2 separate regions of the Homo sapiens genome follow, and region 2 is reported to be linked to region 1. Evidence: microRNA targets listed by miRTarBase, many of them from high-throughput screens and not tested one by one. Region 1 holds a microRNA gene; the other region holds the end of a gene's coding sequence.

What was found. Region 1 holds the annotated microRNA hsa-miR-6889-5p (UCGGGGAGUCUGGGGUCCGGAAU, at 4,469-4,491, shown strand). A microRNA usually pairs through its seed, bases 2 to 8, with sites in the 3' UTR of a target mRNA and lowers its output. Matches are read on the target gene's strand: a 7mer-m8 pairs with bases 2 to 8, a 7mer-A1 pairs with bases 2 to 7 and ends in A, and an 8mer does both.
Region 2: miRTarBase lists TULP1 as a target of hsa-miR-6889-5p. Seed matches in the 3' UTR shown: 7mer-m8 at 583-589 and 7mer-m8 at 645-651.

What each region holds. Positions count from the first base shown.
Region 1 is chr22:41,249,320-41,257,513 of GRCh38, reverse strand. It overlaps MIR6889 (microRNA 6889), which reads left to right and starts at 4,464; the gene lies at 4,464-4,522. It overlaps RANGAP1 (Ran GTPase activating protein 1), which reads left to right. Exons shown (of 16, transcript NM_002883.4): 8 at 690-803; 9 at 1,224-1,323; 10 at 1,409-1,493; 11 at 3,020-3,206; 12 at 4,523-4,642; 13 at 6,405-6,507; 14 at 7,697-7,785; 15 at 8,063-8,184. RefSeq lists enhancers at 50-593, 594-1,137.
Region 2 is chr6:35,495,634-35,498,633 of GRCh38, reverse strand. TULP1 (TUB like protein 1) reads left to right here. Exons shown (of 15, transcript NM_003322.6): 15 at 174-760. The coding sequence ends at 307. It overlaps TEAD3 (TEA domain transcription factor 3), which reads left to right and starts at 1,555. Exons shown (of 13, transcript NM_003214.4): 1 at 1,555-1,736. It overlaps LOC124901309 (a long non-coding RNA gene), which reads right to left and starts at 501. Exons shown (of 2, transcript XR_007059561.1): 1 at 427-501. RefSeq lists enhancers at 1-648, 649-1,579, 2,526-3,000 and silencers at 1,048-1,377, 1,388-1,517, 1,698-1,747.

The DNA.
Region 1 (8,194 bases):
CCTTCTGAGTAGCTGGGATTACAGGTGCAGGCCACTGTGCCTGGCCCAGCAGCTGTTTTTTGAGTCCCCATTTAGTGCTTGGCTTTGTACCAAGTGCAGGCCACATGGGGTTGAGCCAAAGACCCCGCCTTCAGGGAGACCCTAGCTCAAGGAGGGAAGGAAGCTGCCAGTGGTAACAGTGCTGGGCTCTGAACGCAGTGGCTTCTTGGCTGCCAGGGTCCCGTGGCCCCACAGAAGGCTAGTCCGGCTGCCTGTGTGTTAGCAGAGATGTGTGCAGGTGTTGGGGAACACGCCAGAAGGAAGTTCAAATCAGACTTAGGGCAGGCTTCCTGGAAGAGATCACATTTTGGCTAAGTTGTATAGGGCAAGTGGTCTTTCTCTGGACAGAGGGTGGGGGATGGGTGTTTCAGGCAGAGGGATCAGCTTACGTGTGGAAGACCCGGATGCTCAGCAGGAACCTTGCTTGGTTGGTCTCAGGAAGAGTTCTGGCCGTAACATGGGGAGGGGTGGAGGAGGTTTGGCCAGGGGCCCAGAGGCCAACAAGTAGAAGACGGCAAAGCTGGTGACTTGCAGAGGAGGACAGTGTGTGGTGGCTGGCTTGGGATGTGACCGTGTGGGGCCCCCGGGGCTTGCTGAGGGCTGGGGTGTGGTCTGCACCCTCACTCTGGACCCTTGCTTCCCCCTCACAGACCTTGAAGACCTTGCGGCAGGTGGAGGTGATTAATTTTGGGGACTGCCTGGTGCGCTCCAAGGGTGCAGTTGCCATTGCAGATGCCATCCGCGGCGGCCTGCCCAAGCTAAAGGTGCCAGCCTGGACGCCTGACGTCCTCCCTCTGGGGTCTGTGGGTGGTGGGGCGGCTGGGGGCACAGGGGTCTGGTCTGAAGGCAGGTGGGCCTGTGTCCATATCCCAGCTCCTCCACTTCGGGCCCTGTGATGCTGTGTGAGCCTCCACACCCCTCTGAGCCATGGTTTCTTCATTTCTAAAGCGGGAGGCAGGGAGTGGTGTACATCACTGTCTTGTGATTTAAGTAAACACAGTACGTGACTCATCGTTGGCTGCAGGGCATTATTTTTGTTGTTGGTGTTATTCTTCCTGCCCACTTTGCCCCACCTGGAGGACAGAGCCTGCCATATCCTCACTTGGGGAAACTGAGGCTTAGAGTAGAACCTGGTGTCCTGGCCCGGGTTTCTGCCTGCCTCCAACCCTTCCTCTTATTTTCAGGAGCTGAACTTGTCATTCTGTGAAATCAAGAGGGATGCTGCCCTGGCTGTTGCTGAGGCCATGGCAGACAAAGCTGAGCTGGAGAAGCTGGACCTGAATGGTAGTCGGATGGGGGAGGCCTCTGCACAGGTCTGCTAGGCTGGCCCTGGCACCCCGGCTGACTGCTCTTCCCTCCCCTTGAGCAGGCAACACCCTGGGAGAAGAAGGCTGTGAACAGCTTCAGGAGGTGCTGGAGGGCTTCAACATGGCCAAGGTGCTGGCGTCCCTCAGGTAGGGAACTCGGGGTGGCCCCAGAGGTCGGGGTCAGGCCATTCCTTTCTTTCTTTCTTTTGTTCTTGAGATGGAGTCTTGCTCTGTTCCCCAGGCTAAAGTACAGTGGCGTGATCTCGGCTCACTGCAGCTTCCACCTCCTGGGTTCAAGTGATTCCCCTGCCTCAGCCTCCCAAGTAGCTGGGATTACAGGCACCCACCACCACACCTGGCCCCTTTATTTGTTTCTACTTGTATTTATTCAGAAACGTTGGGTGCACTCCTGTTACGTACTAGGTCATACACTAGGCATCAGGGCTATAAGGATGGGACAGTCAGGGCTTCTGTCTCGTGGGGTGGAGACAGAATGAGTTGTCCGTTCAACAGAGGAGCTCGTACGGGCTGAGCGGGGCCACCCTGTAGAGTGGTGGAGTTGGGGAGGCCTCTGAAGGGGTGAGGCCAGATCTCATCCTGATGTGGTGGGGCCTGGGGAGTGATGGGGGTGGGAGGTGGGGGCAGCCAGAAGGGGCTGCACTCGGGATTGTTCTTAAGACGCTGACTCTAGAAAGGAAGAGACCATGGGGCCTGGGGAGTCTACCTGGAGGTGAAGGTGGGTGGCCGGGGAGTGGCCATCTCCTGGATCCAAGTCCGGTTGGGCCATCAGCATCGGGCTCCCTGTGCCCCTCGCATCTCCAAGTCGGCCTCATTCGTGTGTCAGATACTCAGTCGTGTCTCCTCGGTGCTAGGCCCTGAGCTGAGGCTAGGAACTGGGGACTCCGAGGTGGGCTGAACCTCACAGGTCCCACTGTCCCTGGGAAATGGTCCAGCCTTCCTATGGGGCAAGGACACCCCTACTCTTCTTCCTCCCCCACACCTGTAGCTTCCTGAGGTCATGTGGATGTGGGCGCCCCTGCCCTGGCATCTCAACCTGGGCAGTGTTCCTGCCAAGCCCTGGGCTCTAGGTGTGACAAAGCTGTCTTCGTTTTCTGTCTCTCCATGAAACCTGGGGCTCCTTGAGGACAGGGACAAGATCTGATTTTTTTTTGTTTTTTTTTTTTGTTTTTTTGTGGGGGATGGAGTCTCGCTCTGTTGCCCAGGCTAGAGTGCAGTGGCACAATTTCGGCTCACTGCCAGCTCCGCCTCCAGGGTTCACGCCATTCTCCTGCCTCAGCCTCCTGAGTAGCTGGGACCACAGGCGCCCGCCACCACACCCGGCTAATTTTTTGTATTTTTAGTAGAGACGGGGTTTCACCACGTTAGCCAGGATGGTCTCGATCTCCTGACCTCATGATCCACCCACCTCGGCCTCCCAAAGTGCTGGGATTACAGGCATGAGCCACCGCGCCGGGCCGATCTTATTTTTTTGTGTCCACAGCATGGATTTCCCTGGTGATCCACCTGCCCCTGCCCTGGGAGCAGGTGCTCCCACCCCACCAGGCTCTCTCCCTCCTGGCTGAGGTGAGGTCTCTGGGCTCATGGAGCCAGGCCTTAGAGCCAACCTGGGCTGCTGGGTAGAGAGGATCTGCTTCAGCCAGCTCTTTCTGCAGTGATGACGAGGACGAGGAGGAGGAGGAGGAAGGAGAAGAGGAAGAAGAGGAAGCAGAAGAAGAGGAGGAGGAAGATGAGGAAGAGGAGGAAGAAGAGGAGGAGGAGGAGGAAGAAGAGCCTCAGCAGCGAGGGCAGGGAGAGAAGTCAGCCACGCCCTCACGGAAGATTCTGGACCCTAACACTGGGGTGAGTTTCTATCATCTGCCACAATCAGAGCCCTGGTCCTGAGAACGTGAAATCCCGAGGCACTTTCACAATGGGGTAGGGGGTGTCTCCTTAAGCACAGTAGCCACAAACATTTTTTTTTGATTGCATGATATTGAGTAAAAAAAGGAAAATGGTCCCAGTGTAATGATAGTTACCTATATTTCTTTTTTTTTTTTTTGAGATGGAGTCTCACTCTTGTCACCCAGGCTGGAGTGCAGTGGTGTGATCTCGGCTCACTGCAACCTCTGCCTCCCGGGTTCAAGTGATTCTTATGCCTCAGCCTCCCAAACAGCTGGGATTACAGATGCTTGCCACCACGCCTGGCTAATTTTTGTATCTTTAGTAGAGCCGGGGTTTCGCCATATTGGCCAGGCTGGTCTTGAACTTCTGACCTCAGGTGATCCACCCTCCTCGACCTCCCAAAGTGCTGGGATTACAGGCATTGAGCCACCGGGCCCAGCCATAGTTACCTATATTTCTATTTACCCCAATATAAATGTCTATTTACAGGTAGCAGTGCTGCTGCATTATGTATATTATAAGATATGCATAAGGGTTTCTGAAAGAATAAACAAATAAGCATAAATAGAAATTCTGATTTTTTTTTTCCCCACCCACCAGAGGATTGTCTTGGTGACCCTTAGGAACCACTCCCCCATTCCTGGGATGGTGGCTGGGCCATGACCTGGCTTGGGCACTTGGTGTCCCTTGTCTGGCCCGGGGCTGCATCAGGGCTGCCACACCTCCAGTTCATTCATTTGCATTCCCTGTCAGGTTCCTAAGTAAAGCTCCTGGAGAACTTGGCTCTGGACAAGGACTCCCCATGCTTACGCTGAATTGGGCTGCTTCTCTGGTTTATGGAATCAATTAAACAAATGGCTAGGTTCGCCTCAATTCAGTTTTTCCTCTGGGCACCTCTGGTGCTAGCAGGGCTTACCCAGGCTGGACTGTAGTTCTACGGGGACCCACTTTAGCCCCCATGTGCCTCCGTAGTCATTTCTGGGGCACTGCATGTCATGACGAGGATCCACTTGGCCGTAGCAGGTTTTTTGAGTCCCAGGGAGGTAGCTTCCCCCTCACCCCAAAGGCTCCTGGACCAAGAGCCATCCAGGGCCAGCATCTCTGGGTGATATTGATAGATGGGAAATGCAGCTGAGTGGGAGGAAGAATTCTAGACTTTGAGCCTAGATGGGCTGGAGTGAAGGGTGGATGTGCTGGGTGTGGGGATGGGCACAGCTGTGTCGGGGAGTCTGGGGTCCGGAATTCTCCAGAGCCTCTGTGCCCCTACTTCCCAGGAGCCAGCTCCCGTGCTGTCCTCCCCACCTCCTGCAGACGTCTCCACCTTCCTGGCTTTTCCCTCTCCAGAGAAGCTGCTGCGCCTAGGGCCCAAGAGCTCCGTGCTGATAGCCCAGCAGGTAATAACCACCCCTCGACCCCCACGCTGTACGTGCTGTGGCTTCTGGAGCTGTTAGAGAAAAGGGACGAACAGCTCAGAGACCTGGGGGTGCGACGCTGTCAGCTGGGGGCAGGGAGGCTTGGCCTGCCACTGTTACAACACGCGCAAATGTCCAGGGTATTTATAAGCCTCCAGGGGTTGCAAATGTTCCCTCCCCACTCAGCCTACAGAAAGTACAGCCCGCCAGTTCCCATGCTGACTGGGGTTAGGGAATTTCCTTAAGAGCCTTGCATGTGCCCACCCCCTCCTTGGCTTCTCTCTGCGTGTTCCGTCAGCCCAGCTGCTTCGAGAACAACTCTGTTGCCCAGGGCTCCTTTGGAAGTGACGTGCCTATTGCAGGATGGGTGCCCTCACTCCAGCCTCACTTGTTGGTTGGCTCATTCATTCATTCATAGATGATCTTCGGGGCATCCATTTTCTGCCAGGCACTGCATTTGGGCATGATTTTATTTAACCCTCTTGGCAACATGAAATGTAGACTCTGCTGCCCTTACTTTATTTTATTATTTATTTATTTATTTATTTTTTTGAGATGGAGTCTCACTCTGTCGCCCAGGCTGGAGTGCAGTGGCACGATCTCGGCTCACTGCAGACTCTGCCTCCTGGGTTCAAGCAATTCTCCTGCCTCAGCCTCCCGCGCCCAGCTAATTTTTGTATTTTTTAGTAGAGACGAGGTTTCACCACGTTGGCCAGGCTGGTCTCAAACTCCTGACCTCATGATCCACCCACCTCGGCCTCCCAAAGTGCTAGGGTTACAGGCATGAGCCACCGTGCCCGGCCAGCCCTTATTTTGTAGATAAGAAAGCGGAGGCTCGGAGGTTACAGAGAAATAAAATGGGCCCACTCTCAGAGTTGGCTTAACATTTCGGCCAATTGCTTTGTTAGGTTTTGCCTGTATTCTTTGTTTCTTTTAACATGATAAATCAGATGTTGTAAGCCTTTCTGTGGCCTATCACTTTGGTGTAGCACCATTCATCACTTTCTTGTGCCCATAAAACTCTTCTCAGGATTTTTATTGCAATGTGTGGATGTAGCACTTAAAAGCCAGGCACTGTTTCTGACGTTTTTTCCACTTTTCCCTGTTGTGAGGTTGAGGTAAACGTTTCTGCATGTGAGTATTGTCTACATGCTAGATTATTTCTTCAAGTTCAATTACAAGATGGGGACCACTGGATCCCTGAAATGATTTTTTTTTTTTTTTTTCTGAGACAATGTTTTGCTTTGTGACTCCGGCTGGAGTGCAGTGGTGCAATCATGGCTCAGTGCAACCTCGACCTCCTGGGCTCAAGCAGTCCTCCTGCCTCAGCCTCCCAAGTAGCTGAGACTATAGGCACACACCACCAACCTTGGCTAATTTTTTTCCTTTTTGTTGACATGGGGTCTTGCTATGTTGCCTAGGCTGGTCTCAGACTTTTCGCCTCAAGCCATCCTCCCACCTCAGCCTCCCAAAGTGCTGGGGTTACAGGCATGAGCCGCCACACCCGGCTGGGATGATTTTTCATCCTTGTTCATTCACTCATTCATTCCCTCTCTATGCTGCATATGTGCTTGCTGCAGGCCAAATCCAAGCCAGACTCTGAAGGGACAGCATGGGGTAAGGCAGGACCTGTTCTTGCCCGCCAGGGGCCTTTGTACTGCCCAGGCCTCTCCTAGCTAGCGTCAGAGCCCAGGTACCTCTCCACCACGTGCCACAGGCCAACCATTGTCTCTTTTGTCCTCAGACTGACACGTCTGACCCCGAGAAGGTGGTCTCTGCCTTCCTAAAGGTGTCATCTGTGTTCAAGGACGAAGCTACTGTGAGGATGGCAGTGCAGGATGCAGTAGGTAATGTGGGCTGGGTGAGACCTGGGTGCCCTCTGTCCCTTGATGCTCGTGGGCCCCAGGTATCCTTCGTGGTTGCCGTAACTCGTCAGCCCCAGCGCTCTCATGGGAACTGCTCTTTGGCCACCTGAGTTTTTCCTCCGTCAGGGTCCTGCCGTGGAGCCAGCTGGCTGCTCTTCTCCCTGTTTTTCACCACTGAGAAACTGAGGCCTTTCCCAAATCCACACAGCCATGTACAGTTAGAACCCATAGCCCGCTCTAGGAAGTCCAGATAGTCACATCTGCAAGCCCAATGGACGCAGGTCTATCGGGAGGAGGGATGGTGAGAGCCAAGCCCTTGTCCACACCTTGGAGCTTCTGTGCTCACGTCCACTCTACCTGGAGGTTCCTTGCACAGAGGACACCTTTCCCCATAACATTATGGGGGCTTCCTTGGAGCACCAGCCCATATCCCTCCAGCCCTATCACAACCCTCTCCCCACCCTGTCTGTTTCCTCCATTCCAGCACCTGTCACCTTCCACCCTGTTTCCATGTGCTTGACTGAGCCTCCACATCTAACGAAACCTGAGCCAGTTCCGGTTAGGCAGAGGGGAGGAAGGGCCCTGAGGCGAGGGGGACGGTTCCTGGAAAAGATAGAAAGGGGTGGAAGGACATGTGGTGCCTCTTCCCGGCGTGGCGTCGAAGCGGGGAGGGCGGCTCAGTGGGAAATGAGGCTCGGAAGGAGGTGGGGGCCAGACACAAGCCTGCTCCCTGAGGGCCCGCCTGTGGGCATTTTTGGGAACAAGTTGCCCTAGTTCTGTTTCCCAGGAAGCCTAGCACAGTCCCTGCACATCCCCTCACCCTGCCAAAATAACCTGAATCCTCCCCAGTGGTAGCCTGCCTCAGGAAATCTCCATTCCCACGGTGTGAGGTGGGCACAGTGGGTGTCATCCCCATGCCCATTTTATACCTGAGGCCAGGATGGGCAAGGGCCAGAGTGTCACAGCTGGCAGATGGACTGAGCCCATCCCCTGATGCCAACTGCCACTCCCTCTGGTTCCTGTGTCTCTGCCGTCCCTCTCGTGTTCGCCTCTTCGTCAGGGCGAGGAGGCAGGCGAGCCTGTGTCTGCGCGGTGTTGGGGGAACCCTGGGTGCCTTGGCCCAGCCCTCTGCCATAGCCAGCAGCCTGCCCCTGCTGCTTCTGCCCTACAGATGCCCTGATGCAGAAGGCTTTCAACTCCTCGTCCTTCAACTCCAACACCTTCCTCACCAGGCTGCTCGTGCACATGGGTCTGCTCAAGGTGAGGCCGGAAGGAACAGCAGGCCCGGGAGGGAGGTGGGTGGGGTCTGCACAGAAGCTGCCCCAGCCATGCCCGCCAACCTCCCTCACCTCGAGTCCTGAGCCGGCTCGCCCACGGGGCCCCGAGGCCTGGGTCTGCCCCAGCAGCCTTGGTCTTCACGATGAGATTCCGGCTAGACTCAGTTGTGGGCACTATCAGCAGAGTCTGGATGGTGGAGTCCAGGGGCCCCCCCAGGTGACTTTGAAGCTCACCCCGCTTTTCGCTGTGTTCCTCTCAGAGTGAAGACAAGGTCAAGGCCATTGCCAACCTGTACGGCCCCCTGATGGCGCTGAACCACATGGTGCAGCAGGACTATTTCCCCAAGGCCCTTGCACCCCTGCTGCTGGCGTTCGTGACCAAGTGAGTGTGG
Region 2 (3,000 bases), not on the chromosome of region 1:
TGCTGGTGTGGAGTGAGATAGAAGAAGGGATGGGTGTTGAGTAACTGAGATGGTGGCTGAGGGTTGGAGCCCCAAGGCAAGGGACAGACTGCCCCCAAGGTTGAGGGCACTGTCTGCCAGGATGGGGGTCCAAGGAGGTCTCGGGCCGCCCCCACCCCGTCTTGTGTCCATAGCCGACTATATCGTGCTGCAGTTCGGCCGCGTGGCGGAGGACGCCTTCACCCTAGACTACCGGTACCCGCTGTGCGCCCTGCAGGCCTTCGCCATCGCCCTCTCCAGTTTCGACGGGAAGCTGGCCTGCGAGTGACCCCAGCAGCCCCTCAGCGCCCCCAGAGCCCGTCAGCGTGGGGGAAAGGATTCAGTGGAGGCTGGCAGGGTCCCTCCAGCAAAGCTCCCGCGGAAAACTGCTCCTGTGTCGGGGCTGACCTCTCACTGCCTCTCGGTGACCTCCGTCCTCTCCCCAGCCTGGCACAGGCCGAGGCAGGAGGAGCCCGGACGGCGGGTAGGACGGAGATGAAGAACATCTGGAGTTGGAGCCGCACATCTGGTCTCGGAGCTCGCCTGCGCCGCTGTGCCCCCCTCCTCCCCGCGCCCCAGTCACTTCCTGTCCGGGAGCAGTAGTCATTGTTGTTTTAACCTCCCCTCTCCCCGGGACCGCGCTAGGGCTCCGAGGAGCTGGGGCGGGCTAGGAGGAGGGGGTAGGTGATGGGGGACGAGGGCCAGGCACCCACATCCCCAATAAAGCCGCGTCCTTGGCCAAGCGGAGCGGTGGTTCCTCAGCGCGTGCGGAGAACGAGGCGGCAGGAGGCGTCCGAGGCGCGAGCTGGAAGTCTCAACCCCCGTCCCACTCCTGCCCAGGCCCCGGGCGCTCCCGCGTCCCCTCCCCGCGCCCGTCGCGGGTCCTACCGAAACTCGGCGGCCGCACAGCGTCGAGACGCCCCCCGTGGGGGCCCGGGGAGCCGGGGCGAAAGGGAGGGTCCCGGAGGTCGGGGAAGAGGGAGAAAGGGAGAAGAAATTCGAGAAACTAGCCACGCGGGGAGAACCAGACAAACCGGGTCCCGGCAGGGCGGGCGCAGCCGCCAGGGCGGAGCCGGGTCTGGGGCCCCGGGAGTGGGGGGCAGGCCCGCGAGCTGGAGGGTACGCTCCGCCTTGGCGGCTCGGGACTAGGGTGGAGGGGCCGGGAGCCCCGGGGCCCGTGCGCTCCGGCTCTGCCGGGCTCCTCGTGACGCGGCACCCACGGCCCCCGGCACCGACGGGAGCCCTGCCCGCGAGGCGAGGGCTCCGCCCTCGGCCCCGCCCCAGGCCGGAGCCCCAAATTCCGGCGGGTGCCCGGGAGCGGGGCGAGGCCCGGAGCGCAGGGGGAGGAAGGCAGCTCCGCACGGGCGGGCGAGGAGCGGGGCGCCCAGGCGCGCGCCAGCCGGGGTGGCCGGGTCGCGAGGCCGCGGGGTAGGCGGCCCGAGCGCGGCTGGACGGCCCCGCCCCTCCCGGCCAGCACCGCCCCCTGCGCGCCCCGCCCCCTCCTTCCCGCAGCCCCCACCCCCGCCCCGGCTCCTCAACACAAACTTTCCGTCCCGCTCGCTCCCTCCTCCGCGCTCGGCGCCTCCCGCTCCAGCCCGGCTCATTCCGCACATTCCGGCCAGCCCCCTCCCCACGACCCCCCTTCCCCGGCCCCCCTTGCGGCTCCCTCGGGCCCGGCGGAGCGGCCCGGCCGGAGCGCCCCCGCGAGCTCGGACCAGGTAAGCCGGGCGGACGCCGGGAGGAGGCCCCGCTCGGGAGAGGTGGTTTGGTTGGTCGGCTGGGCTGGCTGGGGGGGCGACACTCGAGGGGGACTGGGTCCCCGAGCTATTGTCCAGCCGGAGCTGGAGCCCCGGATCGGGGTGCCGGGAAGTTTAGAGGGAAGGGGGAAAATCTCTCCGGGAAGCCCCGCCCCCCGCCCTCCCCACCCCCCCGCGACGGGGACGAGTTGGTCCGGGAAGGTGGGGAAGCCGGGGAGACCGTGTCCCCTGTGCCGTCGCCTGTCCCGCCGTCCGTGCTTGGGGGGTCGGGGCGGGGATCCGGGGGCCGCACAGTGTGGAGGGCCTGCCTGCCACCCTGGAGCTCATATCCGGGGCGCCCAGTCCCGGGCCCCGCCGCCCTTTGGACTCCCGGCCCGCGCGCTCCCGGAGCCCGCCCGGCCTCAGCTCCACGCAGGCCTCGGGCCCGGCCTCCCAGCGCCCAGGCCGGTTTCTGCGCGCGGTGCCGCGGCTGCGCTGGGTTGTGGAGGGTGTCTGGGACCAAAGCCGCGCGCCCCGGCCGTGTGTCCCCTGAGAGGCAGGGAGGGGCTCACGTTCCCTTCAGTTCTGCCGCCTGCGTCGGGGTGCTGATTCAGAGTTCCAGCCCTGAGCGCTGTGAGCTTGGCTCGGAGGGGTCTGGATTTGGGGCCTTTTCTTCCCCACACTTGCTCAGGGCCCTTGTTTAGACTTGACAAGGTTTGAGGGTGGCTGGTCTCCCGCTTCCTACCCCGGTCCCCACCATTGTCTGTCATGCCCTTTATTCCTGCTAGGGGAGGGAGGGCTGGGAGCGCTGGTCTGGATCTGTTTTCCAGCCCAGCTGGGCCCTGGGGCAGTGTCATTGAGACCCCGCTCTGTCAACTTTCCTGGTGAGGGGCCCTGATCCAGGGCTGAGAGATTCTTTCAGTGCGAGGGGGAAGGAGGCCTTGGGGCGGACTTCTCAGGGGCTGTCTTCTTCTGTGTCTTCCCTCTTTCCAGGTAGGGGCAGAACCAGGTCAGGCCTGGACTTGTTGTCCGGAAGAACAGGGCATAGGGGTAGGGGCTGGACACAGCTCAGAGGGGCTGGTGCCCATAGCGGCTCTGCGTATCCAGTCTCTTGTGGCCTGGTTCTCTGTACACATGTTCCACCCCAGTGCTGGGGCCACCTGGGGCAAGGAGGGGAGGCTTTCCTCAAAAGTTGGAGATTTGGGGGAATTATGTCCTCTCCCTTCTAGACTCCTGTAGCCCCCCT